Linked DNA regions of Homo sapiens: region 1 is linked to region 2. The links come from fine-mapping of genetic effects on gene expression. Tissue or cell type: thyroid. Region 2 holds a variant in brackets; the other region holds the start of a gene. All regions are shown on one strand. Distances are from middle to middle.

Region 1 (2,921 bases), 260 kb before region 2:
TGATTGTGTTGGACTTGCTGCTTGTGTCTGTAGAGGAAGAAGACCATGGAGCCACTGGCCCAGACCATGAAGCCCAAACTCATAAAATCAGGGGAAAAATATAAGACTGCATGTAATGAGCTAAATCTCTTTGATGCTTTGTAAGAACAGTATCCATAATTGTTTTTTGCACTACTGTTTTTGCTATTCAGTGGGCCATTCACTAATAGAAGAACAGATGCATTCATCAAGACATGGGGGGCCCAGCAGAGGAGACAACAGAAGTCAATAAACCTTGGGGATCTAATCTTGATCTCCATCCACCTGCATATACTGGGGTTGAGCTTAATGGCTTGGAATCCATTGAGAAGGCAGATGGTGCTGAGGGAAACTCTTGTGCCCACCCTGTGATAATAAAAGACAAACTTACATCCAGTGTCATTCAGCAAATATTTCAATCCAAAAGCTGCCATTGTCTGAGGTATCCCTTTAAAGAAAAGGACCATGGAGTTAGCCAAGGCCAGTTGGCTGAGAATCAAGTCCGTGGGTCTCAGCTTGTGTCCAGTGAACAAAATTAAGTTATAAAAACAAAGGAGAAAGGAATTTCCCAGGATCCCAACTCCAGTCTGAATGAGGAAGCTAATCCCTGATTTTACTTTTCCAAAAGCCATTTCATCAAAATCTAGGGGATGTTGATTTTCATTGAGGTCTGAAGAATCAGTAGAATAAAAAAGCAGAAAGAAGTATCTTGTCATCAGTGGAGACAGAAGTTTTAATGTGTCTCCAACCATATTTTCTCATCTTAAACAGAAATTAAGATTGTCCCTGTTCGTGCAAAGGCAATTGCTTGTGTGTCCAACTGCAGAGAAGCAGGTGAATGAATGAGGGCTCAACCGCACAACAGATCCACAAATCAAACCTATAAAACTCAGGGCTTACACACATGCAACAAGTAAATACAAGCAAAACTAGGGAAATATATAAAAACAGAACACAGAAGAGTCAATATCATTAGAGTGATATTATACTATAGTTTGCAAAATGTAATCATGACGGAACCCTGGGTAATATGGACAGGGCTTTTTCTGTATTATTTCTTATGACTGCTTGTGAGTCTACACTTATTTCAATAAAACCTTCAATTAAGTAGCCTGGAGATATGAAAAGCAAAAATAATACACCATAAAACCTTTTCCACACTAATATTTTAGTAAACACCATTGTTATTGATGCATTGAAACAAATTTTAGGCCGGGTGCAGTGGCTCACACCTGTAATTCCAGCACTTCGGGAGGCCAAGATGGAGACCATCCTGGCCAACATGGTGAAACCCTGTCTCTACTAATAATACAAAATACTAATAATACAAAAATTAGCCGGGCATGGCGGCGCGTGCTAGTCCCAGCTACTCGGGAGGCTGAGGCAGGAGAATCGCTTGAACCTGGGAGGCAGAGGTTGCAGTGAGCTGAAATCAAACCATTGCCCTCCAGCCTGGGCGACAGAGCGAGACTCTGTCTCAAAAAAAAAAAAAAAAGAAATTAAAAAAACGCTACAATACAATTGGTAACAAGGCCTTCAGCACAGTACAAATGCTAACTTGAAGAATTTTTAAAAACTATAATTTTTGGAACAATCAACATTGCATCATGGTATATTTTATTTTAAGCACATATATTTCTGTTATTTTCCACCGGACAGGTCTAGAGATTGTGAATTGACTCCGTAGAAATAACCATGACCACCTTGAGCCCACACATTTTTATCTCAATGCCATTTCTCACAAGTAAATGCAAAAGATCCTGAAAATAAATACTAATCCCAGAAACACCTAAGATATCCTTAAAACTTGTTAAATAGGAAATTCAATATGTTCCAGAAAGCTTGGGTTTATTTTTAGGGAAAGATAATTCAATTGGGAGGGAATTTCATTGCACAATATTCATATATATCAATCACAAAAGAAATAGTAACTGCGGCCAGGCACGGTGGCTCACGCTTGTAATCTCAGCACTTTGGGAGGCTGAGGCGGGTGGATTACAAGGTCAGGAGATGGAGACCATCCTGGCCAACATGGTGAAACCCCGTCTCTACTAAAAATACAAAAATTAGCTGGGTGTTGTGGTGCGTGCCTGTAGTCCCAGCTACTCGGGAGGCTGAAGCCTCCTGGGTTCACGCCATTCTCCTGCCTCAGCCTCCTGAGTAGCTGGGACTACAGGCGCCCACCACCACGCCCGGCTAGTGTGTGTGTGTGTGTGTGTGTGTGTGTGTGTGTGTTTAGTAGAGACGGGGTTGCACCGTGTTAGCCAGGATGGTCTCGATCTCCTGACCTCGTGATCCGCCCGCCTCGGCCTCCCAAAGTGCTGGGATTACAGGGATGAGCCACCTCGCCCGGCCATAATTTAGATTCTTTTGGTGTCTCTATGGAATTGCTATCATCAGGGAAAATTATGAGGTATTTTCTCCCATGAATAACTACATCTCTTTAGGGGTGGAGCAATCAATAACACAGCAGTATCAAGATTCTCAGGCGAGAGGTGGCTCACGCCTGTAATCCCAGCAGTTTGGGAGGCCGAGGCTGGTGGATCAGCTGAGGTCGGGAGTTCGAGACCAGCCTGACCAACAGGGAGAAACCCCGTCTCTACTAAAAATACAAAAATTAGTCAGAGGTGGTGGCGCATGCCTGTAATCCCAGCTACTCGGGAGGCTGAGGCAGGAGAATCGTTTGAACCCCAGAGGCGGAGGTTGCAGTGAGCCGAGATCATGCCATTGCACTCCAGCCTGAGCAACAAGAGTGAAACTCGGTCTCAAAAAAAAAAAAAAAAAACTCAGGCTCTGAGGTATGAAAACCTTTTAGATTCCCACAAACCACTTGTTGACAAATGTTTTTCCTATTTATATGAACTCATCATTTATTTTCAAGATAGTTCCTGATTCTTTGCTTT
Region 2 (2,921 bases):
GTGTTGGAGGTGGGCCTAATGGGAGGTGTTTGGGTGTTTTGCAGGACATTTAGTTATCCCCTCCGACCCACAGACTCCAGGTCCTACTTATATTCTTCCTCCTGTTTGTGAGTGAATCACATAACTTGTGCAATCTCAATCCAAGGACTGGAAGCCAACCTATTCACAAAAAATCTTCCTCACCAGCCTCTACCATATTTCATTCTGCCCAATAACTCCTTAGCCATTATTATTTAAAATGGACTCAGAGATCATAGCAAATATCCCATTTTCATCACCAAATGAAAAAATTTCAAAAATGTAATTGAAAATACTCACAAAACTCCACAGAGAATACTCGCGTGAGGTTTTGTTAAGGCAAAGGATATGGTGCAGCAAGAGAAAGAATGCGTGCCCATATGCTATGTCAGACACAAATCCAGGCAGTTTTCCAGACTCCCATTCATACACTGATATGATTCACTTCCAGATCAAGCCACCAATATCTGAGAGAGAAATGCTGGCTTCAGGAGAGCTCAAGTCAGAGGATCCCAGCAGGGATTTTATACCCTTCTGGGGTAACACAGTTGAGCCAGAGTGCCTACCTAATCATGTATGCCAACCAGAAACCATCAGCAGTCAAACTTGCCCTCCATATTGTCATGGGATCTTCCAGATGTTAAACAATAATAATAAAGCTCACTGCATTTAAATGTCAAAATGAGATACCTAAAGTCCCTACAGACAAAACTAGAGCTTTTCCAGTCCAATTTTAAACTAATTCCATCTCACACAAAACAAGTGCACACTATATCAAAATTTGGGGGATACTGCTAAAGCAGTACTTACAGGGAAATTTATAGCCTATATTATTATACAAGAAGAGAGTTCACAAATAAATGACAGTTCATTTTAAGAAATTAGGAAAACCAGCCAGGCATGCTGGCTCATGCCTGTAATCCCAGTGCTTTGGGATCACTTGAAGCCAGGAGTTCAAGACCAGCTTGAGCAATACAGTGAGACTCCATCTCCAAAAACAAAAACAAACAAAAAAGTTAGCCAGGTGTGATGGCACATGCCTGTAATCGCAGCTACTTAGGAGGCTGAGGATTACTTGAGCCCAAGAGTTCAAGGTTACAGTAAGCTATCATAGTGCCACTGCATTCTATCCTGGGTTGACAGAGAGAGACCCTGTCTCAAAACAAAAAAGAAAACTGGGAAAACACAGACAAATCCTATAGGCAACCCTATATAGACTCTATCCTCTCTTGCCTCTTGCTTCAGGAGCAGCCCTGCCTCAGTGACAGCAAAAAGTGGCAACCAAGAAAGCTATTTCCACATGATTCACCAGGAACACTGGCTAAGTTGCAAAGCCATGTCCCTGAAATGCTAGATCTTCCTTCTTTCAATCTTGGTTTTCCTACCCACTTACACACCCAGCAATGGTCTTTTTTTTTTTCTTTTTTTTTTTTTTTTGAGACAGAGTCTCGTTCTGTCACCCAGGCTGGAGTGCAGTGGTGCGATCTCGGCTCACTGCAAGCTCCGCCTCCTGGGTTCATGCCATTCTCCTGCCTCAGCCTCCCAAGTAGCTGGGACTACAGATGCCCACCACCACGCCTGGCTAATTTTTTGTATTTTTAGTAGAGACGGGGCTTCACCGTGTTAGCCGGGATGGTTTCAATATCC[T/G]GACCTCGTGATCCGCCCGCCTCAGCCTCCTAAAGTGCTGGGATTACAGGCGTGAGCCACTGCACCCAGCCCCAGCAGTGGTCTTGAGTTGAGCCATCTAGAGTCTATGGGAATCCACAAAATGTTTAGATTTGCCCTGGGAGTGATGCTGACCACAAAAGAGACATAGCTGTGGAAGTTCTGAAACTTTCTGTATACTCTCATCCTATATAGCCATAGTATGGGAACATCTGAGCATGTACCTTTAGAAGTGGCACATCCCAGGCCAGGTGCGTGGCTCACGCCTGTAATCCCAGGACTCGGGAGGCCGAGGCAGGCGGATCACCTGAGGTCGGGAGTTTGAGACCAGCCTGACCAACATGGAGAAACCCTGTCTCTACTAAAAATACAAAATTAGGGCTGGGCGCAGTGGCTCACGCCCGTAATCCCAGCACTTTGGGAGGCCAAGGCGGGCGGATCACGAGGTCAGGAGATCGAGACCATCCTGGCTAACATGGTGAAACTCCGTCTCTACTAAAAAATACAAAAGAATTAGCCGGGTGTGGTGGCGGGCACCTTTAGTCCCAGCTACTCGGGAGGTGGAGGCAGGAGAATGGCAAGAACCTGGGAGGTGGAGCTTGCAGTGAGCCAAGATTGCACCACTGCACTCCTGCCTGGGCAACAGAGCCAGACTCCGTCTCAAAAAAAAAAAAAAAAATACAAAATTAGCCGGGCATAGGTGATGCATGCCTATAATCCCAGCTACTCAGGAGGCTGAGGCAGGACAGTCACTTGAACCCAGTAGGTGGAGGTTGCAGTGAGCCAAGATCACGCCATTGCACTCCAGCCTAGGCAACAAGAATGAAACTCCATCTCAAAAAAAAGAAGTGGCACATCCCTTGTAGTGTGCCGCAATCTCCTCAACTCCCTATTAGTCATACCCAGTGTTTCTATACCAATTATAATTACCACCTGGCTCCTAGAGGTCCTCCAGACAAGGACACCTGCCTATTAAATTCTGAACACAGACTCCTTGACAAGAAGCAGGGGCCAGCTTCCCAATAAGTGCTTGGAAATATGGAACACTGGATGGGAACCAGTGACCAAACTCATGCTCCCAGGTGCTCTAGAAGTTGTTACAACTGATCTCTCTTCATGGTTACCTCCAAACCTACAGTAAAACTGGCATCCAGGTCACATGATTTGTCTCCCAAAGCCCTGCAGTCTGTCTTAGAAGGGCTTGAACAGCAACACAAATTAGGTCAAAGCTGTAATCA

What was found. PIP is the estimated chance that this variant, and not a neighbour inherited with it, causes the effect. A credible set is the group of variants that fine-mapping cannot tell apart.
Region 1: it holds the start of VN1R1, and the variant in region 2 is the best candidate, but not a certain one, in a credible set for the expression of VN1R1 in thyroid (GTEx, PIP 0.73).

The regions. Positions count from the first base shown.
Region 1 is chr19:57,455,717-57,458,637 of GRCh38, forward strand. VN1R1 (vomeronasal 1 receptor 1) reads right to left here and starts at 1,424. Exons shown (of 1, transcript NM_020633.4): 1 at 1-1,424. The coding sequence starts at 770.
Region 2 is chr19:57,716,698-57,719,618 of GRCh38, forward strand. LOC124904783 (a long non-coding RNA gene) reads left to right here. Exons shown (of 2, transcript XR_007067359.1): 2 at 470-700. Among named protein-coding and RNA genes, the nearest start is that of ZNF154, 9.0 kb to the left of the region's middle. The variant T/G (reference allele first, on the strand shown) is at 1,666.